7 linked regions of the Homo sapiens genome follow. The protein of the gene in region 4 interacts with the protein of the main gene of each other region in a pairwise test. Each region holds a gene or a part of one and is shown on either strand. Other genes may lie near its edges. The genes, in order: WTAP, EXOSC7, NXF3, EIF4ENIF1, SUPV3L1, RPRD1B and LLPH.

Region 1 (2,657 bases), on a different chromosome or scaffold from region 4:
TCCAAATTCTTTGAAATTTTAAATTGAAAATTAGTGTCTCTGGTTAATTGCAAAGATGATCAGTAGCCAAGTAATTTCTTCTGAACTACCTACCTTTTCAAAATCTTCAGGAATTATTTCCTGTGACTTTTGTCCTTTTATATGTAACAGTCCTTGGTTGAGAACATGGGCCTCTTTGGAGTGTTATAGAGGACCACACTATCCTTAAGGATCAGACTTGCTATGGAACTAAGGCACTGGATCAGGAATAAGGGGATTGGCCATAGTGGGCCCATAGGTAAACGTGAGTCAAACTTTGGGGCTGTAATCAGGCATATGGCAAGATGGATCAAAACAATTTTAACTTGGTTGCTTAATACAGTTGCCCTCGGTATCCATGGTGGATTGGTGTCAGGACCTCCCACAGTAAGCCCCTCATATAAAATGATGTCATATTTACATATAAACCTATGTACATCTTCCCCTTTGAGCCATCTCTAGATTAACAGTACCTAATACAATATAAATGCTAGGAAAATAGTTATTTTACTGTATTGTTTGGGGGATAATGACAAGAAAAAAAATCTGTACATGTTCAGTATAGACCCAGTTTTTTCTTCCTTGAATATTTTCCTTCTACAGTTGCTTGAATTCATTGTTGCATGTGGAGGGCCAACTGTATATTATTTTAAGTATCTGACTTCCCCCAAAACAAACTCAGTCATATTTTAAGATTCCAAGCAAAATTTTTAAATGTAGTGTGATTTTAGAATTGTATTTGTTTACTTGAGCGTTTATTGACTCCCTTGCTTTGTGGCAGGCACTAAAGAAACATTTTTCAATGTTATAAACGATATTAAAGTTGGTCTGACTCTCCTTTGCACAGAACTGAATGACTTCATCATCCAGCTTGATGAAGAAGTAGAGGGTATGCAGAGTACCATTCTAGTTCTGCAGCAGCAGCTGAAGGAGACACGCCAGCAGTTGGCTCAGTACCAGCAGCAGCAGTCTCAGGCCTCTGCCCCAAGTACCAGCAGGACTACAGCTTCTGAACCTGTAGAACAGTCAGAGGCCACAAGTAAAGACTGCAGTCGTCTGACAAACGGACCAAGTAATGGTAGCTCCTCCCGCCAGAGGACGTCTGGGTCTGGATTTCACAGGGAGGGCAACACAACCGAAGATGACTTTCCTTCTTCTCCAGGGAATGGTAATAAGTCCTCCAACAGCTCAGAGGAGAGAACTGGCAGAGGAGGTAGTGGTTACGTAAATCAACTCAGTGCGGGGTATGAAAGTGTAGACTCTCCCACGGGCAGTGAAAACTCTCTCACACACCAATCAAATGACACAGACTCCAGTCATGACCCTCAAGAGGAGAAAGCAGTGAGTGGGAAAGGTAATCGAACTGTGGGTTCCCGCCACGTTCAGAATGGCTTGGACTCAAGTGTAAATGTACAGGGTTCAGTTTTGTAATATTTTTTCAGCAAATTTTTATACAGTGTCATTTAATTTGGGAGAGGATACTGTCCAGAAAATTAATGCATACTTTTGTCACAATTTGCCTTTTTGTGGGTGTACGTTTTGGTTTTTTTTTGTTGTTTTTTTTCTTTGTTTTTTTTTTCTTTTCTTTTTTTTTTTTTTTTTTTTTTTTTGCTTCAATACTTCTGCCGCTTTGGAAATTGTAACAGTTAATTACTTTGAATGTTGCTAAAAGGACATTTTGTGTAGGGTCAAGTTATTTTTATATGAGTTAATGTGAAATTGTAAATGGAAATTTTTCCTTAAAATACAACACAATGATGTCTGTATAAATCTGTCTGTTTAGAATCTGTGCTGTGTAAGGGCATTCGTACTCATGCTGTTACTGTACTTATGCACCATTCAGACTTGTTAGAGTAGATGTGGGTTTATGACTGCCAAGTTTGCCCAGTACAGTAGTTTTTTATCACTAAAAGTTGGACTCATTGATGGAGTCCTGTAGTAGTTTCAGTGTTAGATACAGTTTTTTCCACCATACATCTGTGCATTTTCTCTTTAGGTGACTGTTTAAGAAATTTGTGTGCATAGTTACTCAGTTTTTATGAACTGTTGTATCCTGTTAATGCATATTGCTCTGTGACTCCAGTATATCTTACCTGTACTGACCAAACCTAAATAAAGATTTTTATTGTAACTCCTTAATTAGCTTTTTTGTTTTGTTTTGGGTGTATGTTTAGCATTTGTCATTTTCATTGAGTCATTGAATTTCTACTCATTATCCTTCAAGTACCACAACAGTCAAACTTAAGACCAAGCATCGATTACGATTTTGCACACAATTTTTAATTTATGCCTTATTTTGCAAAACGGAGCTGGAGTTTAGGGCTACACTTAAAATTTTTTCTTGACTTATAATTGTTACAAAATATTTTAAAATACAGAAAAGTATAAAGAAAATAGTCATCTATTTCTTAGGCTTTTTTTTTTTTTTTTTTTTTAATTGAGACAGGGTCTTGCTTTGTCACTTAGGCTCAAGTGCAGTGGTGCAGTCATGGCTCACTGCAGCCTCAAAGTCCTCGACTCAAGTGATCCTCCCACTTCAGGCTTCCGAGTACCTGAGACTATAGGCATATACTACCACACCCAGCTACATTTATTTTAATTTTAGTAGAGACAAGGCCTCGCTATGTTGCACAGGCTGG
Region 2 (3,500 bases), on a different chromosome or scaffold from region 4:
TGGCAGGCTGCAGATCCGGAGCCCTGCCCCGTGGGAAGGCAGCTAAGGCCCAGCAAGAAATTGAGCACAGCAGCTGCTGGCCCAGGTGCTAAGCCCCTCACTGCCTGGGGCCAGCTGGCTGCTCCAGAGTATGGGGCCCGCCTAGCCCACACCCACCCGCTGAGCCCATGCCCACCCAGAACTCGCGCTGGCCCGCAAGCACTGCCCGCAGCCCTGGTTCCCACCCACGCCTCTCCCTCCACACCTCCCAGCAAGCTGAGGGAGCCGGCTCCCACCTTGGCCAGCCCAGAAAGGGGCTCCCGCAGTGCAGCGGCGGGCTGAAGGGCTCCTCAAGTGCTGCCAAAGTGGGAGCCCAGGCAGAGGAGGTGCCGAGAGCAAGCGAGGGCTGTGAGGGCTGCCAGCACGCTGTCACCTCTCAATATCTTCCAGGGAGGAAAGGTGCTGGGGGAAGGATGGGCTGCACAGGACCTTCCACCTGATTTGTGATGTTTATTTTCTGTCATTGAAAAGTTAAACGGGTGAAAGACCTGAAGCAAGTATGGCAGAGGGTGATCATTGGTACTGTGTGGTGCTGCAGTGTTTTGCTTTTTTCTGTTTAATTTCTCAAAAAAGTCAGTCACATATGCAGTTAGCCAGGCAGTTTAAAGATAAACTGTCAGTCACATACTTTAGAGCAGTGTTTTATTTTATTTTTTATGTTTCTGGGAAGCATCAACTCCTTGGAGAATCTGATTAAGCTAATGATTCTTTTTCTGAAAAAAACTGCTTTTGAAAAATGTTTACAAAGAATGAGAAGGAGCTCCATGAGCCAACGTGGAATGATTTCCTGCATATATATAGTTAAGTGTTAAAAAAAAAAAAAAAAGTAAGAGTATCTATAGTATTCCACCCTTCATATAAGAAACAAGGAGATATTAAAAAATTCATGTATTTGCTTATTTGTGCAGAGAAAATACAAGAAAGATAAACCTGAAACTGAAGAGAAACCTAGGGTGAATGGGAAGAAAGGGGCATGAAAATAGCATAATACGGAGGAGAGTGACATTTCTCTGAGCATACTTTTCTGAGTTTTCTCTCAGAACTATAGTGATAGCTCACAAACTCAGAAAGTAAATAAGTAATTAAAAGTAACCATGATGTGGGGGAACCCAAAATGGAAAACAAAAATTTACAAATGAAAATTAGCCAGGCATGGTGATGTGCCTGTAATTCCAGCTACTTCAGAGGCTGAGGCGGGAGAAGCGCTTGAACGCAGGTGGCGGAGGTTGCAGTGAGCTGTGCCACACTGCACTCCAGCCTGGGCGACAGAGCCATAGTCTAAAAAAAAAGTTACAAGTTACAAATGAGCCTGTGTTACAAGTGAGTAATGTAACCACACTGAAGGGCACGTAGAAGAAAAGAACTGAAGTAACTGGAAAACAGTATTTTGCCTGGATACTCTGAGGCTAAAGACAGAACTTTACACAAATACTGTGTGCTATTAGTAAATTTGTTTCTCACAGGGGTATGGGTTAGAAGTTCAGAAACTGTGTATACTAAGATTGAACAAATACAGAAATACATGTTAGATAATAAGAGCCAGCTTTCTCCTTCTTTGAGAAAGAAGTTACAAATAAGAAACAGAGGAAGGTTAGAATGAACCATGTGATGTTAGATTGGAATTGATCTATCAGTATGAACTCTTGGCTTTTTAATAGATATGTAGATAGATACAGAATTAAACAGATTTGTGTGTGTGTGGTGGGGGTGGTTAGTATACATAACTGTATTTTCTAGCTCTGTCTGCTGAGAAGTTCTGGAAGAAATAATACTCCAACAGCAATGAACTTAGAGCCTAGTTCCTGGTTTTAAGTACCATTCCCCAATAAAAGCAACCAGGGCTCCTTGGAGAAAGGCTTGATCCCTAGGGCTGGGCAGAGAAGACACAAGAGGATAGATATCTTGTGTTGCAGAAAGTAGATAATTACTCAAAAAGTTGGAGGCATGTTGAAAGAGCACAAAAACTAACCCAAAGAAGCCCCCAGTGGCCAAATTTGGAACACTTTGAGCAGCAAAATAACTAATGATAGTAGTGGATTATAACCATAGCATAAAAGATACCAATGAGTTGTACTGATACAAGTAATTGAAGGAGTAAATAAATGGGCAGAAGGAACAGGCAGCGCGTAGACCACCCTGAAAACCATCTTCTGCCAAAAGAGTCAGCAAACTTCCTGTAAAGGACTGGATAGTAAAGATTTGGGGCCTTATGGGTCATATCTCTGGCCCAACCACTCAGCTCTGCTTTTGTAGTGCAGAAACAATCATAGACATTACCTAAACAAGTGGGCATGGCTATGTTCCAGTAAAACTTATTTACAAAAACAAGGGACCTTAGTTTGTTGACCCTGTTCTAGAGACTGCCTCTTTAGAAGATTAGGTGTCTTTCACTATTTACACAGTAGATCTTGTTGAGTTTTAGGGGTAGGAGGGCTTCAGTTGAGATGATTGTACTCTGTAGCTCTGACAACATATACTTCTTGGTGCAATTTAAGAATTGCAGATTTAGAGAGAGGTGGCTTATTTTGTCTCTTGTTCAGATCTTGTTTTTGTGTGCATATTCTATATAGTGGTATGTAGTATAGATTTTGCAATCAGACACAACTGGCATGGAAAACTAGCTTTGTTTTCACTAGCTGTAGGACCTTGGACAAGTCGCTCAACTTCTCTGAGTCTCCATTTCCTCATATGTAAAATAGTAATGTTGTTGTTAGCTACAAGGACAGAATTTTAGATGATCCACTAAGAGGAAAAGAGATATTCTGCATATATCTTCTCTAGGGGGAAAATGGGTGAGTCCGTTTAGGAGTTATTGTTGATCTGGGGTGACTATAGGACTGTGGTTGTTAACACCTAGGAAGACCTCCGTGTGGATGGCCGTGGCTGTGAGGACTACCGATGTGTCGAAGTGGAAACTGATGTGGTGTCCAACACTAGTGGGTCCGCCAGGGTCAAGCTGGTGAGTACTGTGACCATGGTTCAAGCCCAGGTGGAGAAATGAGTAGGCCCTAAGGAATGAGCTGCTGACGCTGTCTGGCTTTTGGAATGCAAATTGCTCTTGGGGAAATCGAAGATCCGAGCCAAACTCAGGGAGGGGGGGTCTATCCAGATCTGAAAAGACTGCTCACCTCCTCCAAAGACCACTTTCCAAGTCTTAGCACTGCTCCTAAAAGAGTCCCCCAGGGGTGTATGTCCAGAAGAGGAGGGAGGTGGTGGAGTACCTGGCTGCATACTCTGAGTGAGGACTCTTCTTGCATGTGTCTGCAGGGTCACACAGACATCTTGGTGGGAGTGAAAGCAGAAATGGGGACGCCGAAGCTGGAGAAACCAAATGAAGGCTACTTGGAGTTCTTTGTTGACTGGTCAGTACTGTCTATGCAGATATTTCTAAAGATAAATGATTTTAAAGATGAAGATTCAGAAAATGAACCTCTGGTTTGCTGTTGAACCCACTTTTATAC
Region 3 (4,035 bases), on a different chromosome or scaffold from region 4:
CAGGAGCCCACGGAGGCGGGGGTGGGGGTGAGGCTCAGGCATGGCGGGCTGCAGGTCCCGAGCCCTGCCCCGCGGGAAGGCAGCTAAGGCCTGGAGAGAAATTGAGCATAGCAGCTGCTGGCCCAGGTGCTAAGCCCCTCATTGCCCAGGGCAGCAGCGCTGGCCGGCTGCTACGAGTGTGGGGCCCACCGAGCCCACGCCCACCCAGAACTCCAGCTGGCCCGCAAGCGCCACGCGCAGCCCCGGTTACCGCTAGCGCTTCTCCCTCTACACCTCCCCGCAAGCTGAGGGAGCCAGCTCTGGCCTCGGCCAGCCCAGGAAGGGGCTCCCACAGTGCAGTGGCGGGCTGAAGGGCTCCTCAAGTGCCGCCAAAGTGGGAGCCCAGGCAGAGGAGGTGCCGAGAGCGAGCGAGGGCTGTGAGAGCTGCCAGCAAGCTGTCACCTCTCACTAGTTTATTCCCTCTCTCTGGCCTGAGACTTTAAGAGCTACATTTCTGGCTCTAATCATTAGGAGTATCCATCTACATTGACTATACTTTATTTTGTCTTTAAGACAATACTTGATTCTTTTCTACTTTCATTACAGTGACACACTAAACTTTTACTTTATATTTTCCTGGTCTGTTTTTTGTATTCTCTCTCTAGGATGGGCTGTAGTTAATTCCAGTCACACGAGTATTTGCAGAACATTGTCTTACTTTGCCCTAACTTAAGTAAACCCCAAATATTATAAGAGTTTAGAAAAGCTGTGCATAGAGGGGTCACCCACTATTCCATGGTTCTCATTTCCACTTTGTTTCTCCAGGTCACATCTGAATCATTCCAGACAAGGTCCTATACCTCATTAAGCCTCAGCACCTTCAGGAAGCTGGTGATTCTGAGTTGAGAGTCCCCTTGTGAGGAATACATGGAGAAAAAAGTAATGTAGCAAGTACAGAGCTTGAGCTACCATAGGCACTCTGAGTCTCTGAGTCTCTGAGTCTGCAGAGTAAATGAATACAATGTAATGCACTGGAGATGACCAGCAAGCTGAGTTTTCCGTGTTTGTTTCAATAAGTATCTGGGTCCTAGGCCTCATGATTGTGATTGTTGCTAACCACCTTTGCAGGAGTGGCTACATTAGAAACATCTCCCTGGGTGTTAGGCTGGCAGCAAACTTTGGGGAGTGGTAAGAACAGGAAGTTAATTCTGTGACTCCTAGGACACTCCTCTCTATGCTTGGGGAAGGAACTTCCTGTAAGCAAGGCTTGAGGCTTGCTCTCGCCTTCGTCAGCAGCCCTCCTCAATCTTCTCCAAACTCCCGTCCCCAGGCCACACAGATTCTCCTCAAGAGAGCCCTATAAGGACATTGGTAAAATGTCACTGCCTTCAGGACACACTACGGGTGAGTTGGCCAGCATGAGGCTGGAGTCTCAGGTCTCACAGGGCAAAAGGGACTGAGCCCCCTTCCCCACCTTACCCTAACCCACATAACACCCAGCCAATCTCCCTTTAGATGGGGGTGGGCAGTGGCAAGGGCCCAGGCCTGAGTCTTGTGGCCTTCTCAGGGCCAGGGTTTGAGGTATGAGGAGGGTCACCTGAGGCAGGGGTTGGTAAAAATTAACATTCCTTGGATGTACACTAGAGGTGGTAGTGGGGCAGGGAATACATCTTTAATCTTCACACTAACCATTCAAGGTAGATTGTATTACCTCCCACCCCAGCCCCAGAAATTTATCAAGGCTAGCCTTATGGCCCAGCATATGACTTATTCTGGAATGTTCCATGTGAAGGTTTTCTGTGCAGTGTTCTATGTCATTTAAGCAAACTTATTACTCATGCCATTTAAATCTTCTATATGTAGCTGAATTTTTGTCTGCTAGTTTTATCTGTTACTCAGAGAGGTGTGTTAAATTCCCACATCACAGTGGTTTTAACTATTTCTCTATTTACTTAGATCAGTTTTTGCTTTGTATCTAAACATAGATTGGTCCATGTTAAGACATGCATACAAATTTAGAATTTCTTTTTTTTTGTATAACTTGAAACTTTATTTTTAAAGTATTCTGAAATTTTTTCAATAATTTTAACCAGCACTTACTTCCCTTAAGCACACACACATTTTTATCTTACAATTATAAGCCCTATTGCAGTACAAAAAAAAACAATAATTCTACTAAGTTAGCCAGCCAATTAATTCTACTAAGTTAGCCAGCCAATCAAACTATGTCCGTAAATAATCATGTTACAGCCTAGAATCAAACAAAAAATTCTTCTAGTTCTCTTTAAAGATATTTATCATTAATTTTTTCATAAAACCAAAGTAATTGATCCAACAATACTAACAGTTCTAGCATGCAACAGACCATCTAATATCTAATGTTTAATCTTCTTCTTTTTTTTTTTTTTTTTTTTTGTGATGGAGTCTTGCTGTGTCGCCCAGGCTGGAGTGCAGTGGCACAATCTCGGCTCACTGCGAGCTCTGCCTCCCGGGTTCACGCCATTCTTCTGCCTCAGCCTCCCGAGTAGCTGGGACTACAGGCATCCGCCACCATGCCTGGCTAATTTTTTGTATTTTTAGTAGAGACGGGGTTTCACGGTGTTAGCCAGGATGGTCTCGATCTCCTGACCTCGTGATCCACCTGTCTCGGCCTCCCAAAGTGCTGGGATTACAGGCATGAGCCACCGCGCCTGGCCTAATCTTCTTAACATGTGTATTTTCATTCCTATAAAGTTTCCTTAAGAAGCTTGCAATAATAATAAAGGTAAATAAGTACAGTTGTCCCTTGGTATCCATGGGGTATTGGTTCCAGGACCCCCCCTACCCTGCCCACCCACAGATACCAAAAATCCAAGTATACTCAAGTCCCTTACATAAAGTGGCATACTTGCATATAACCAGCGCACATCCTCCTGCATACTTTATCTCTAGACTAATACCTAATGGAATGTAAATGCTATTTAAATAACAGTTATATTGTATTTTTTATTTGTATTATTTTTATATTTTTCTCTCCTATTATTTTTGATCTGCAATTGGTTTAATTCACAGAGGCAGAGTCCGTGGATACGGAGGACCAACTGTGTTTTGTTATAGGTACTTCAAATAGCACTTCAGTACATCTTTGACAAAATTTTTACAATATTCCAACTTTCAATATGAAACAGCTTAAAAAGGCATGGGTCAAAAAAAAAGTATAGTAGCATCACTTAGGCAAATAAAGCCTCATAATCATACAAACACAACACTGTTAGGACTCTCCCTGTTTAGGTCGGGAAAAAGAGTATATAAAACATTTCCTTCAAATAAAATTACATAAATTGCTTAGAAAAATGCCAAAATCAATAATTTCAGACATAATAAGGAGAAAACCTTGAACATTATTGGAAAATATAAACTAGCTATTCCTTGCTTTTGTGTAACAGATGAGTTCTTGAAAAGTTTTGTATTAAGCAAATTCTGTAAACCACTATCTTGCCTGCACTGGAAGAACATATCCCAAGGAAACCTAAGAGAAAGTGTTTTTTAAAGCATGTGATTCTCCTCTGTTTTTGTTGGCTGTCTCTACGTAATAAACAGGCACACTTCTACATCATTGGGTGTTTTACTCAGACTGCCATGTTTCATCTCTGTAAATTAAACCCAAGTTACTTAAAAATCACCTGTGGTAAAAGAAGCAAGCAGATCACCCCCACCTTCTATCCCTCCCGCCTCCCCCTGCCCCAAAAGGGAGTTCTCAGATTATGATGCAAAATTTACAATTGTTCTTTTATCCACATTCTCAATAGAGGATTTTCCACTATATTTAAGTATGGTAGGATAATTACCCACCTGTTCCTCTTTTCAGCTTAGAAACATAATGGTTAATTCCTTTTATTGCTAGAAAATGTCATTCCTGAAGATTTTATAAACAAAGGCAAAGGTGAAGGACAATTTGTCATTATGAAATAAGTCCTTTGTAGTTTAGAATATTTCCCAAATCATAACAGTTCTATTTGGAATGATACCCACAACTCTACAAGCATCTTATCCCTCTACAGGAATGACTACCTTACT
Region 4 (3,500 bases):
TTAAGGCTTTTTTCCTTTTCTGCCTCCCGTAGAAGGGGGACTGTTTTATTCTTGCAAGTACAGTACCTGCACGAGAAGTCTGCTTTTTAAGTCATGTGTGGCTCTTCTACATGTATACTGATGGCTGAAGCCACAGAGGGACACTGGAGTGATTTACTTATCAGACGGTTTTTGTCCTGGTTTTGCTTTCAGGTATAGTAGAGTGCAATGGAGGAGTGGCCGAAGAGGATGAAGTGGAGGTCATCCTTGCACAGGAGCCTGCGGCTGATCAGGAAGTGCCAAGGGATGCTGTCTTGCCTGAGCAGTCCCCAGGAGACTTTGACTTTAATGAGTTCTTTAACCTTGATAAGGTGCCATGCTTGGCTTCGGTGAGTGTAGCAGCACACTTAAAAAATGTGTGGTTAAATTTGACCTGAGTATTTAAGACATCGGTTTGAAAGTGTTGTTTTGCTAGATGCTTTTGGGGTTTTTGGCTTTTATTCTTACATATTTAAATTTTTGTTGGCTTTGTTTTGAGAGGCTTAATGGATAATATGAGATTTTTGTACCAGTTAACTCTTTTTTAAGCTGGTGGTGTTAGACTAAAAATTCTTTTTTTGTTGTTTTTTTTTTTTTGAGTTGGAATCTTACTCTGTCACCCAGGCTGAAGTGCAGTGGCACGATCTTGGCTCATTGCAACCTCCGTCTCCTGGGTTCAAGCGATTCTTCTGCCTCAGCCTCCTGAGTAGTTGGGATCACAGGTGTGTGCCACCATGCCCAGCTAATTTTTGTATTTTTAGTAGAGATGGGGTTTCACTATGTTGGCCAGACGGGTCTTGAACTCCTGACCTTGTGATCCTCCTGTCTTGGTCTCCCAAAGTGCTGGGATTACAGGCGTGAGCCACCGCACCTGGCTTTTTAAAGTTATTTTTAGAATTCCTGTTTATCACTAAGATGCTTATATTTTGGATACACTCCCCAATTTTTCACAGTGATGTATCATGCTTATCTTATATTTTAATTAATACAAAATTAGTGCACTTAAAAGTCAGCATTATTTAAGGTATGAGCATCTACAGGTGGAATGTGATTGAAATTGTCTAGATAATTCCTCTGAAAATAGAAATTCTGGAAACAATAATTAGGGTCTTGAATTAAAATCCCTTCAAAAGAAGTATATTGTGGCTTAATTTGGGTATGGATTATGAAAACATTCTTCCAGATAAGAACAAAGAATAAATCTAAGCTTCCCCTGCTTAACTTTGGAAACTGTGGGTTCCAGATTTCAAATAAAACAGTCACTAATTCTGTCATCCATGTACCAGTTTTTGAAAAAGCATGTTTTCTGTTTATCAGTGGGATTGACGTGAAAGTATATGACTTATTTTCAAGGATATGTCTGATTTTTGGATAGATGTTTGCTCTATCTTGTCTTTTCTAAATATTGATAAGAATACTGCAAAAAATCAATTTGGATATTTGACTGAATTTATGGTATGATTTGAATTGAAAAATTTTTTAAATGCTTAAATCTAGTTTTTAAGAAAGATTGGCACTATTTCATAATTTCTACCAAAGCAATTTATTGTTCATAGTGTGTTATTTAATTGTCCTTATTAAATGTAAACTATGGAGGTTGGATTTGGAAACAGAAAACACCTGAAAACTCTCTATTAATCTCAAACAGAAATTAGAGATCAGTTGAAATTTCATCTTCCACAATCATACTTTTTCTAAACTTTGACTTGGAATTACAGTCTTTATGAGCTCTGCTTTTTTAGCCTTTGGCTTCTGAAACTCTCAAGATTGAATTTCATAATGTTCATTACAACCTTGAAACCACTAAGTTTGAAGCAATGGTTTTCTTTCATCAGTTCCCCATACTTGATATTTAGTTGAAGGTCACTCATCAGCTTGTCAGTGGAATGCTGTGGCATTGACACTGTTCTCTGAGAACATTTGGTAGTACGTGGATTTACTCCTGAGGCAAAGGATAGAAACCCAAAAACCTTTTTGTAGCATAGAGGCTTTGCTTTATATTCTTAGAAAGTAGTGGTGGTTCATGCCTGTAATCCCAGCACTTTGGGAGGCCAAGGCAGGTGGATCATTTGAGGTCAGAAGTTCGAGACAAGCCTGGCCAACATGGTAAAAACCCATCTCTACTAAAAATAAAATTAAAAATAGCCAGGCATATGGTGGCGTATGCCTGTAGTCCCAGCTACTCGAGAGCCTGAGGCATAAGAATCACTTGAACCTGGGAGGCAGAGGTTGCAGTGAGCCAAGATTGCACCCCTGCACTTCAGCCTGGGCAACAGAGCGAGACTGTCTTAAAAAAATAGTAGACCGGGTGTGGTGGCTCATGCTTGTAATCCCAGCACTTTGGGAGGCCAAGGCGGGCGGATCACAAGGTCAGGAGATCGAGACCATCCTGGCTAACACGGTAAAACCCCGTCTCTACTAAAAATACAAAAAATTAGCCGGGCGTGGTGGCAGGCGCCTGTAGTCCCAGCTACTCAGGAGGCTGAGGCAGGAGAATGGTGTGAACCCGGGAGGCGGAGCTTGCAGTGAGCCGAGATCGTGCCACTGCACTCCAGCCTGGGTGACAGAGCGAGACTCTGTCTCAAAAAAAAAAAAAAAAAAGTAATAAAAAATAAAAAAGGAAAGTAAGTAGATGGTTATACTCAAGTTTGGGTTATTCAGAAATTACCCAGGATGGAGGAAGAAAAAGGTGTTCAAATTCCTAGGTTCTGAGAGTATTTATCTTCAGGTCACGAGCATGAAAGGAAGTTTCAAAGTAAGTGACCCTTTCATAAGATTTAAACCTTCTTGTCCTTTTTCATCTAGAAACTATTAGTTTTTATTGTCTTTTTCTTCAGATGATAGAAGATGTTTTGGGAGAAGGGTCAGTCTCTGCCAGTCGGTTCAGTAGGTGGTTCTCTAACCCGAGCAGATCAGGAAGCCGATCCAGCAGTCTTGGGTCAACACCACATGAAGAGCTAGAGAGACTTGCAGGTAAAATGGCTTCAGATTCTGCCCTTGAAGGTAAACCTGGGTTTTTCCCTGATATGGTTCATTTTATCTTCATTAGTCAGGAGTCAATTAGGGTCAAAGGGTCTCTGGACAACTGAAAAGCCTTCAATTTGTGTCCTTTTAATATTGTTGAAGGGGCCGGGTGCAGTGGCTCACGCCTGTAATCCCAGCACTTTGGGAGGCCAAGGCAGGCAGATCACAAGGTTAGGAGTTTGAGACCAGCCTGGCCAACATGGTGAAACCCCCATCTCTACTAAAAATACAAAAATCAGCCAGGCGTGGTGGCGGGCATCTGTAGTCCCAGCTACTCAGGAGGCTGAGGCAGGAGAATCGCTTGAAACTGGCAGGCGGAGGTTGCAGTGAGCCGAGATTGCGCCACTGCACTCCAGCCTGGGCGAAAAAGCGAAACTCCATCTCAAAGAAAAAAAAAAAAAAAAAGAAAGAAAGAAAAATACTGTCGAAGGCATGTTTCTTTACTGGAACAGATTAAT
Region 5 (3,500 bases), on a different chromosome or scaffold from region 4:
TTGATTGAACCTCATGATCTGAAGTTCTGACAGAGTGGTCATCACACCCTAAGTCTTCCAAGAGTACAGGAAATTCTTCACTTCTTGACAAAACCTTGTGGGGCTTGAGTAGATCTCTTCGAATTAAATAAATCAGTACTCTTAGAAGTTGGAGACCCAGCAAGTTTGTCGTTTTCAAAGTGTTGTATGTCAGATATTGGGGCCTTTGATACACATCTAATTGCCAGACACAGTTTATATTCCTTTTTGAAATTCTTAGAGTTGGAAGTAACTGGTTTCCTTTTAATCCTGCTTCTCTTTTTCTTTACCAGAGTTCTATAGTAAAATGAATTATTATTATTATTATTATTTTTTGAGACAAGGTCTCACTCTGTTACCCAGGCTGGAGTGCTGTGGTGCAATCACAACTCACTGCAGTCTCAGCCTCCTGGACTCAAGTGATCCTCCCACTTCAGCCTCCCAAATAGCTGGGACTACAGGTGTTTGCCACCATGCCCATCTAATTTTTTATTTTTTGAGCAGAGGGCATCTCACTGTGTTACCAAGGCTGGTCTCGAACTCCAGTGCTCAAGCAATTCTCCCACCTTGGCCTCCCAAAGTGCTGGGATTATAAGCATAAGCCAAGGAAATAGTTTTGAATTAGCCTGTTATTTTAGTTTTGTGCTCAGTTTTCAAGGAGAGATAGTGGAATATAGTGGAAGAAATTTTGGAGTCCATTCTGTGTTTTGCCATTCTTAGCTTTGCATTCTTTAGACAAGTCACAGAAGGTTAGACTTGCAAAATGTGCCTCAGACATTAATTTTTTATTGGGCTCAGTTTTACTATTTTATAAAATGGAAATAGCAGTTAATAACCTTTCTGAACTTAACACATTGCCGTGAAAATGAAATATATGAGAAAAAGCTTTGAAAACAGGTGAAACACTCTGTTTCATCTTATTAATTTAGAGATGCCAATGAGAAGTGATGGTAACACTTATAATATCAAAATAAATGTTTTTCTGTGTTTTCTTTTGAAAAACATTGGTACTTATCAGTTTTTAGCTACTCTTAACTGCATTACAATCTTTTCACTTAATTACTAGTCACAAGAAGTTGAGTTGGGTGTGTCATTTTGCCATTTCATGTCTTTATTGTAGGTTCGAGACTATAAGAGGCTTACCCCCATTTCTGTGCTGGACCATGCACTAGAATCTTTAGATAACCTTCGGCCTGGGGACTGCATTGTCTGTTTTAGCAAGAATGATATTTATTCTGTGAGTCGGCAGATTGAAATTCGGGGATTAGAATCAGCTGTTATATATGGCAGTCTCCCACCTGGTAATTATTGACTTTCCTCGTGACAAGATATGAAATCTCCTATCTTTGCAATTTATGTTGAGATATATATAAAAAAATGGTAAACAATATTGAATTAAGCTGCTTGATGTATTGGTAATTTGTTAAACGTCATATAAAATAAATAATTTTCTATTTCATCTTAGTGGAAATAGAAGTATTTTAATTATAGTTCTTGTTAGTTGCTGCTATTATTAGACTGTATCTTAAATGTTGAGTTTATTATTTTCTTACAGAAATGTCATTGAAATCTGGTCTTGACCATGTCCTTTTAAGTTGTAGTCCTGAAATCTGTGTCCTCAGGAATAAGGCTAGTGTGGTGGGGGATTGTGTTGCTATATGACGGAGTATTTGAAGGAATGGATGTAAAGGATAAGTGGCTCTTTGAGGATATAAAGAAATAAAGTTTGAAACAGTAAAGGTTTTATCATTAAAAATGGGAAGAACAGGAGGTGAGGGTTTCCAAGATGTACTTAGCTTGATGTAATAAAAGACTGAGAACACTGATTTAACATAAATTGTTCTTGTTTTAGGGACCAAACTTGCTCAAGCAAAAAAGTTTAATGATCCCAATGACCCATGCAAAATCTTGGTTGCTACAGATGCAATTGGCATGGGACTTAATTTGTAAGTAATTTGTTTTTAATAAGATGAATATTTGGTGAGTTAAATGGTGGTTTTTTTGTTTTTCAGTTTTCTAATTGGCATTAATGACCAAACGCTATGATTTGGGAGAATAAATATTATAGGCTAGATTTGAGGTTTGTCTTGCCTACACCTATTGAGGGAAATAAAAAGAAAATATTAAATAGTGCCAGGACTTTTCTTAGGGACAGGGTCTTGCTCTTTTACCCACGCTGGAGTGCAGTGATCAAATTGTAGCTCAGTGCAGTCTTGAACTCCTGGGCCCAAGTGATCCTCCTGCCTCAGCCTCCAGAGTAGCTGGGACCACAGGTGCACACCACAAAGCCTGGTTATTTTCTTTTTTTTTGGGTAGTGACAAGGTCTTACCCTGTTGCCCAAGCTAGTCTCTAACTCCTGGCCTCCAGTGATCTTCCCACCTCAGCCTCCCAAAGTGCTAGGATTACAGGCATGAGCCACTACACTCGGCCCACACTAGGACGTTTGAATGCTGCCCACCACTACTGCTAACCTATTGTACTACGTCACTTTACTTTCAGTTTCTCAGTCAGGTGTCCGAGTGCCTATTATGCACATGGGGCTAGTTATTATCTCTAAATGATAACAATGTTAAGCCTAAATATTATTTATTTATGTATTTATTTATTTCTGAGACAGAGTCTCACTCTGTGCCCCACGCCGGAGTACAGTGGTGTGATCATGGCTCACCGCAGCTTCAAACTCCTGGGCTCAAGCGGTCTTTGTGCCTCAGCCCCCCGAGTACTAGAGCAACAGGCACACACCACTGAACCTAGCTGATGTTTTTAATTTTTTGTAGAGACTTGGGTCTTGCTATGTTGCCCAGGCTGGTTTTGAACTCCTGGCCTCAAAACAATCCTCCTGCCTCAGCCTCCCAAAGTGCTGGGATTATGGGTGTGAGCCACTGTGCCAGACTTTCCTTAATTTTGTAAGTGGCAGTCAAGGTTGCAAGAGGACCTAAGCTAGTATTGGAGTGAGCATTATGCAATGACCCAAGTATTGGAGGGTTTTTCATACAGTCTGCAGGATCACTTTTATTTCTGTTTCAGGAGCATAAGGAGAATTATTTTTTACTCCCTTATAAAGCCCAGTATCAATGAAAAGGGAGAGAGAGAACTAGAACCAATCACAACCTCTCAAGCCCTGCAGATTGCTGGCAGAGCTGGCAGATTCAGCTCACGGTTTAAAGAAGGAGAGGTTACAACAATGAATCATGAAGATCTCAGTTTATTAAAGGAAATTTTGAAGAGGCCTGTGGATCCTATAAGGGTAAGAGGTAACATGTTAACTACTGCTTCTCTGTGGAGGAGAGTCATTCTTTCCCTCACCCACCATCCAGACTCTCACCTCAGACACATTTCTGGATACAGACATAAGTGAAAGAAAATTTTGTGCCATGAAAACTGCATTAAAAAAAGCCCTACTTTATTGCTTTGGAGAGCCACAGAGTTCTTTGATCAGAGAATGGTATGCAAGTGAAGGTCCAGATTGACAAAGTTTAGT
Region 6 (3,500 bases), on a different chromosome or scaffold from region 4:
AAAGAGAAATCAAAGACGATTTCTAGGTTTTTGATGTAAGGAATGACTGATGGTGCCCTTTACTGAAGTGAAGATTGGGGAAAAGATTTGGTGGAGGAAATCACGAGTTTTGTTTTGGCCAGGCCGAGTGTGAGGTGGCTAGTGAATATTCCAAGGAGTGATGCCAAATAGGCAGGTGGATAAAATAGTCTGAAGCTCAGTAGAGACTTGATTTCTGGAGACATAAATTTGAGAGTTACCCACATGATATTTACTTATTGTTGTGGGCCCCAAGACCACTCCCAGGTTTGGTGATTCCCTAGAATGACTCACAGGGCTCATCATGTAGTCATAGTCATGGCAGTGATTCATTACAGCTAAAGGATCCAAAGCAGCAGCAGCAGCAGAGGGTGATGTGCATGCAGTACCCGCAGCAGACTGGAGCGCTCTGGGTATAAGCTTCCGAGTCCTCTCTCAGTGTTATTCCACAAACACGCTTAATTCCTCTAGCACTGAGTTGTGATGTGTATGATGTGTAACCTACCAGGAAAGCTCATTAAAGACTCTGTGCCCAGAGTTTTTATTGGATTGGTCATGTAGACACCCTCTGCCAAAATTCTAAGCTCCCAGAAATAAATCAGGTGTTCATTTTTTTTTTTTTTTTTTTGAGACGGAGTCTCACTCTGTCGCCCAGGCTGGAGTGCAGTGGCTTGGTCTTGGCTCACTGCAAGCTCCGCCTCTCGGGTTCATGCCATTCTCCTGCCTCAGCCTCCCAAGTAGCTGGGACTACAGGCGCCCGCCATGATGCCCGGCTAATTTTTTGTATTTTTTAGTAGAGACGGAGTTTCACCATGTTAGCCAGGATGGTCTTGATCTCCTGACCTTGTGATCTGCCCGCCTTGGCCTCTCAAAGTGCTGGGATTACAGGCGTCAGCCACCGCGCCAGGCTCAGGTGTTCATTAAGAACCGTATTGCTTGCACAAACAATTTAGGCCCAGTAAACCACCCTTACCAGTTAGGAAATGGTAGGGACACTCGGAAATCCCAAGTTCCCAGACCACTTCCCTAAGGGTAGCAGTCTGGCCTTCTGTGTTAACTCCTTTCTGAACCAGCTTTACATGAGGTACTGTTGGAAGTGTAGGGAATACTTAGAATTCCTGCCCTTAGTAGGCCTACCATAGGCCTGCTGTGCATGAGATAAGACAGAGTTGTACAAATTACTGTGGTTGTACTGAAAAAGTGCCATAGAACTGTAGAGGAAGAAAAGGCCCCCAAGGCTGGCTTTGCAGGGACTCAGGTGTCCAGCTGACACGTCAAGCAGCCAATTCTGTTTGTGTGTATCATATACATTTTTCACTCTTAAAGGTCAGTTTTGCTATCTGTATTGAAAAATAAAGTGATTGAATTTGTTATTAATCAGAATTAAAATATGAAGTGTTCAACGTAATATTAAGTTGTGTATGTAATTATTTGCCATCTTCCACTTTATTCATAGATTGTTGGCAAAGATTGTTCAGTCTTTTTTTCCACTTAAAGATTTCTCAGTTTAGATTGGAGTTAGTACAACCTGAAAATATTTCTCTTTCTGTTATAAAACGGCTTTATTACTTTGGTTGTATCTAATTCCAGATGCCAAAGTGACTTCCATTTCGCTGGAGCTACTTCCTTCAAAACCTAATCAGTAGAAAGATTTCTTGAATATTTTATGTATAACTTTGAAACTTATCTAGCAAAACTTTGATTTACCACAATGTTCAAGGAAATATCTGTCCTGGTTAGTTATATTCACTAATTAAACTAGAACCCCCCTTTTGGCCTTTAGTAGTAAAAGCCTTTTGAAAATGTTTTGTGGTTATAACAGGTTTGAGCATCATTTTCCACTGTGCCTGAAACTGTACACAAAACCAGTCTTAGCCTGAATGGAGTCCCAAGTATCTCCAGGAATGGTGGGTGGTGGGTGTGTGTTGTGATACCCACCTACTTTTAAACTAAGTCCTTGATAAGAATTTATTCTCGAGACTGGTTTCTCTTTCTTTTAAGCGAACAGAGAATCTGCAGCAAACAGATTTTATGCTAAAAGTACCAGCTAGTTCATTAACTAAGTTCTGATTAGTTGCAATTTGGTTTTACTAATTATAATGACTTTATTTTTCTAAGCTATACATTTGCTCACATTAGGGACCTCCCATTGCCTGCAGGCCACGTGCTTTAATATGGCATTCAGGGCTCGCTGTAATTGAATTCCACCCTCCTTCCAGATTCTTCTGCAGTTTCCGCACATTCCCCCATATACTTCAGCTACTTGAATTACTCCTTTCCCTTTGCCTTGTTCAATTTTGGCTATTCCATTTGAAGGAGAAGAGATAGCATGAACAAAGGCACATGCACATGAGAGAACAAATTCTGAGTAGCAAATACATACGGGTGGGTGTTGCTGGAATGCAAAGTTCCAGGTAGGGTAGGGAAAGGAGACTAAAAACAGGTCTGAGGGATTGCTGAGTCGAGCCCTAGAGGTCAGGACCCAGGCCTTCTTATTCTTTGTAAACCTTCATTGGTCGAGCTGAGGAGTGCTTAGTTGATTTCTGCCATGACCTTGATACAGTAAGATGATTGTTGAAAGTTAAGTAACTGTATTACTTACCGAAACCCATATACATTTTTCTGGAAAAGATTACAATTTGACAGATATTCATTGTGCTTGTTCAAGGGCATATAGCAATGGGAGAAAATGACAAATCTGCACCCCTGTGGAAATTACATTCAAATGGAAAGCGTGTAAACAAAAAGTAAACTATTGAATATACAGCATACCAGAAAAGTTGTATGGAGAAAAATTGAGTAGGGGCAGGGAGTGTTATTTTCAACGTGGAGATTAGGGAATGACACACTGAAGGTGGTGTAACTAAACATACCCCTGAAGGAGGAGAGGAATTGAGCTGTGTGGCCACATGGGGAATGTGGTTCCAGGCAAAGCAAACTTTTGAAGTGCTAAGGCTCTGAGGCAGTGCTAGGGTAGCTGTTGTTGAGGCAGGAGGTTGGAGGACGGGGGTGGGGAAGAGTGGGTAGGAGATGAGGCCAGGGAAATAACAGCTGGGTTGGGAAAGGCCTTGGAGTCTTTATAAGGACTTTTATTCTGAGGGATACTGGGAAGAAATGTTGGCAATTTTGAACAAAGGAGTGACGTGGTCTGCCTTAGTACAGCAGCTAAAATTGTATTTTGAAAACTCGAGAACAGGTTGTAGGAGGACAAGGGTGGAAGCGAGGAGACCAGTAATGAGGCTACTGTAGTAATGCAGGCGAGAGATGATAGTGCCTTGGGCCAGATTGATAGCAGAGGAAAAGATGAGAAATAACTCATTTCCGGATATATTTTGAAGGTGGAGTAAAAGTGTTTTATCACAAATACCAAGTAATTGGGTCATATTTTTAAGCTTTATAAAATTAGCAGTAGAAATGTTTTTCCTTTTTTTTCCCGAACCCTCACTTCTGACTTTAAAAAGTTTAACAAAAAAAGAATTAAT
Region 7 (3,500 bases), on a different chromosome or scaffold from region 4:
AACACTTGCCTTCACTTGCTGTTTTCATTTCCTCACACACACATCACCCCTCCCTATTGGTTCTTTTTTGTTGTTGTTAAGGCAAAATCCACATAACATAAAATTAACCATTTTAAAGTGTACAGTTCAGTGGTATTTAGTACATTCATGTTGTGCAACCATCACCTCTAGTTCCAAAACACTTTCCTCACCCTAAAAGGAAACTTAATACCCATTAAGAAGTCTGTCTCTCCTCCTCCTACCCCCAGCCTCTGGCAACCACTAATATGCTCTTTTCATGTGTGAATTTACCTGTTTTGAATATTTCTTATAAATGGAATCATATATAATGAGACCTTTGTGCCTGGCTTATTTCCCTTAGCATGGTGCTTTTGAAGGTCACGCACATTGTAGCATATATCAGTACTTCCTTTCTTTTTAAGGCTAAATAATAGTCCATTGCATGTACCACGTTTCATATCCATTCAACGGTTGCTGGGCATTTGGATTTCTTTCCCCTTATGGGTGTTGTGAATAGTGCTGCTGTGAACATTCAGGTGCACAAGGTTTTGTTTGATAAGTGGAATTGCTGGGTCATATGGTAATTCTTTTTAATGTTCTCCACATCAGCCACACTATTTTACATTCCCACCTGCAGTGTTTGAGTATTTGAGTTTCTTCACATCCTCACTAATACTTGTTTTCCATTTTCGGATTATAGCCATCTTCGAGGGTATGAAATAGATTCTCATTGTAATTTTGATTTGAAGTTTCCTAATGACTAATGACATTGAATGAAGTGTTTTTTGGTTTTTGTTTGTTTGTTTTTTGTTTTTTTTTTTTGAGATGGAGTCTTACTGTTGCCCAGGCTGGAGTGCAGTGGCATGATCTCGGCTCACCACAACCTCTGCCTCCCAGGTTCAAGCAATTCTCCTGCCTCAGACTCCCAAGTAGCTGGGAATACAGGCGTGTGCCACCATGCCCAGCTGAATTTTGCATTTTTAGTAGGGTTGGGGTTTCACCATGTTGGCCAGGCTGGTCTTGAACTCCTGACCTCAAGTGATCCACCTGCCTCAGCCTCCCAAAGTGCTGGGATTACAGGTGTGAGCCACCACACCCGGCTGAACATTTTTTCATATGCTGATTGACCATTTGTATTATCTTTTTGGAGAAAGGTCTACTCAAGTCTTTTGCCTCGTTTTTCAATTACGTTGTTTGTCTTTTTATTATCGGGTTGTTAAGAGTTCTTTATATGTTCTAGATACCAGATGCCCACATCCACTCTTGATTCTTTTGGATTGATCCTGTTTTCTTTTCTCTCCTGTTTTCTATTTATTTTGTTATACCCTCTAATTTCCTTGACCTTGAATTCTGGTTCTTATTACTTGGTTTTCTCTTATATTTTTAATTTCTAAAAGTTTTTCTTTTTTTTTTTACTTTTTTTTTTTGAGATGAACTCTCACTCTGTCGCCCAGGCTGGAGTGCAGTGGCATGATCTCGGCTCACTGCAAGCTCCATCTCCCGGGTTCGCGCCATTCTCCTGCCTCAGCCTCCCTAGTAGCTGGGACTACAGGCGCCTGCGATCACACCCGGCTAATTTTTTGTATTTTTAGTGGAGACGGGGTTTCACCATGTTAGCCAGGATGGTCTCGATCTCCTGACCTCGTGATCCACCCGCCTCGGCCTCCCAAAGTGCTGGGATTACAGGCGTGAGCCACTGCGCCTGGCCTACTGTTCCTTTTTCATAGCTTTGTGTTCTTTGTGTTTTGTAAATGCCCCTTGAGTCATCAACTCTGTGTTCTTAATGGGCATATATCTTCTCCTAAGGGTATTAATTACAATTTGCTTTTGAAATTTTTATTTATGGTATGTATTATCTGTCTTTCCTCTTGGAATTCCCTCCCAAGCCCTTCCATTCCTTTACTTTTGTCTCTTTCTTTCATATTAGAAGCTTTTCTCAAATGTCTGGTGATCAGTGGTCATTGTTTGTATTTAAAAGTGTGGCACTACAATGATGATTGGAAGCTGGAGGGAGACAAGGTGTGGGAGAGGGTCTGTCAACTGCTAGATGTATAGAAGATTTGGAATGGCTCCAGGAGGTTTTATTCGGAGATCTCCTGTATCAGAATCTGTTAAGTCTTTTTTTTTCCTCATCATCCCCAGAGAGAAATTATCTTATGTCCTGCCTGGGGAATTCTGGATGCCCTTATTCTTAGATATTTTAGGAGCTAAAGGGTGGTGAGACTGAGACTGAGGGAGTCTCCCCATTTAGTAATCTATTTGTTATCAATTTGGCTCTCATCTCTACCCTCAAGTTCATGTTTTTCCTTATTTCTACTCTTTCAACTGCCTGCCTGATTTCTTAAGCCATAAACCTAGTAGTCATCCTTGATTCCTCTTTCCTTTATTCCCCACATCTAAACCATTAGCAAGTCTTACTGATTGTCCCAAAAATACATTAGAAATCTGTATCCATTTTTTTCCTGCTTTCACCTTGATTCAGAAGGCCGTCATCTCTTGCCTGTACTATTATAGGAGCCTTTTTACTTCTCTCTTCCGCTCTTGTTCCCTTCTCATTTATCTTCTACATATCCACCAGTGTGATCTTTTCAGAAGGTAAATCAGTTTATATCACTGCCATGCTTAAAAACCTCATTATCTTAACATGTTCTTACCAGCGCCTACCAGTTCTTTTTTTTGCGGGGAGACAGGATCTCACTTTGTTGCCCAGGCTGGAGTATAGTGGCTGTTCACAGGCGTGACCAAGCCCACAACATCCTTGAACTCCTGGCCTCAAATGATCCTCCCACCCCAGTCTCCCGAATAGCTGAGACTACAAATGCCTATAGATACTATACCTGGCTGAGGTTTTCTTTCTGTTTGCTGTGTTATTCTCCCGTCAACAGAACACTGTAAACTCCGTGAGGGCTAGGAGTTCATATGGACCACTATATCCCCATAAACTAGAACAGCACCTAAAATAATCATTCAACACCTAGTTATTGAGTGGCTGTTATATACCAGACACTATTCTAGATACTGTGGAAACAATGGCAAATATCTAATATAATGCCAGGTAGTCGAGATAATAGAAGACTTTGTGTATCCTGATAAGGAGGTCCCAGTGAGGGACTCTGAGCATGTCCTTCACAGTGGAGAAGGTGATAGGTGTACCACAGCATGTTTGCACTGAGCTTCCTGCCAAGTCTCCTATCAGTAGAGCTGGATCTCTGGGTGTTACCTAGCTAGGAAAAGTATGCCAGCCCCAGGATGTGTCCAGGTCTTCTCTGTTGAGTGCCTGTCTCTGCCATTACAACCCTGCTGCTGACTACTCCATCGAGTTCATTAGAAGTTCGTTCTCAGTTCATTATAATTTAGTTCAAGTTCTTAAGAAATGGCCAGTCATTCCTAATCAGTTCATTACATCTAAGGTGTATCCCTTAGAAGTGTAGGTATGCTTACTGAACTCAAGGAATCACTTAATATGAGAAATGTTGTTGTAACTCACATGTGCTCAGAAC

The links.
Region 1: the proteins of EIF4ENIF1 (region 4) and WTAP interact in a two-hybrid assay, tested with the Homo sapiens proteins (one large-scale study listed by BioGRID).
Region 2: the proteins of EIF4ENIF1 (region 4) and EXOSC7 interact in a two-hybrid assay, tested with the Homo sapiens proteins (one large-scale study listed by BioGRID).
Region 3: the proteins of EIF4ENIF1 (region 4) and NXF3 interact in a two-hybrid assay, tested with the Homo sapiens proteins (one large-scale study listed by BioGRID).
Region 5: the proteins of EIF4ENIF1 (region 4) and SUPV3L1 interact in a two-hybrid assay, tested with the Homo sapiens proteins (one large-scale study listed by BioGRID).
Region 6: the proteins of EIF4ENIF1 (region 4) and RPRD1B interact in a two-hybrid assay, tested with the Homo sapiens proteins (one large-scale study listed by BioGRID).
Region 7: the proteins of EIF4ENIF1 (region 4) and LLPH interact in a two-hybrid assay, tested with the Homo sapiens proteins (one large-scale study listed by BioGRID).

What each region holds. Positions count from the first base shown.
Region 1 is NC_000006.12:159,754,163-159,756,819, forward strand, and holds the end of WTAP (pre-mRNA-splicing regulator WTAP), read left to right. Parts: intron 1-865; coding exon 866-1,449; 3' UTR 1,450-2,157; downstream 2,158-2,657. UniProt on the Homo sapiens protein: Associated component of the WMM complex, a complex that mediates N6-methyladenosine (m6A) methylation of RNAs, a modification that plays a role in the efficiency of mRNA splicing and RNA processing.
Region 2 is NC_000003.12:44,986,244-44,989,743, forward strand, and holds part of EXOSC7 (exosome complex component RRP42), read left to right. Parts: intron 1-2,896; coding exon 2,897-2,998; intron 2,999-3,306; coding exon 3,307-3,401; intron 3,402-3,500. UniProt on the Homo sapiens protein: Non-catalytic component of the RNA exosome complex which has 3'->5' exoribonuclease activity and participates in a multitude of cellular RNA processing and degradation events.
Region 3 is NC_000023.11:103,090,344-103,094,378, reverse strand, and holds the start of NXF3 (nuclear RNA export factor 3), read left to right. Parts: upstream 1-1,235; 5' UTR 1,236-1,355; coding exon 1,356-1,383; intron 1,384-4,035. UniProt on the Homo sapiens protein: May function as a tissue-specific nuclear mRNA export factor.
Region 4 is NC_000022.11:31,455,343-31,458,842, reverse strand, and holds part of EIF4ENIF1 (eukaryotic translation initiation factor 4E transporter), read left to right. Parts: intron 1-192; coding exon 193-368; intron 369-2,855; coding exon 2,856-2,991; intron 2,992-3,500. UniProt on the Homo sapiens protein: EIF4E-binding protein that regulates translation and stability of mRNAs in processing bodies (P-bodies). Plays a key role in P-bodies to coordinate the storage of translationally inactive mRNAs in the cytoplasm and prevent their degradation.
Region 5 is NC_000010.11:69,197,234-69,200,733, forward strand, and holds part of SUPV3L1 (ATP-dependent RNA helicase SUPV3L1, mitochondrial), read left to right. Parts: intron 1-1,138; coding exon 1,139-1,319; intron 1,320-1,870; coding exon 1,871-1,964; intron 1,965-3,046; coding exon 3,047-3,266; intron 3,267-3,500. UniProt on the Homo sapiens protein: Major helicase player in mitochondrial RNA metabolism. Component of the mitochondrial degradosome (mtEXO) complex, that degrades 3' overhang double-stranded RNA with a 3'-to-5' directionality in an ATP-dependent manner.
Region 6 is NC_000020.11:38,043,746-38,047,245, forward strand, and holds part of RPRD1B (regulation of nuclear pre-mRNA domain-containing protein 1B), read left to right. Parts: intron 1-3,500. UniProt on the Homo sapiens protein: Interacts with phosphorylated C-terminal heptapeptide repeat domain (CTD) of the largest RNA polymerase II subunit POLR2A, and participates in dephosphorylation of the CTD by RPAP2. Transcriptional regulator which enhances expression of CCND1.
Region 7 is NC_000012.12:66,124,251-66,127,750, reverse strand, and holds part of LLPH (protein LLP homolog), read left to right. Parts: intron 1-3,500. UniProt on the Homo sapiens protein: In hippocampal neurons, regulates dendritic and spine growth and synaptic transmission.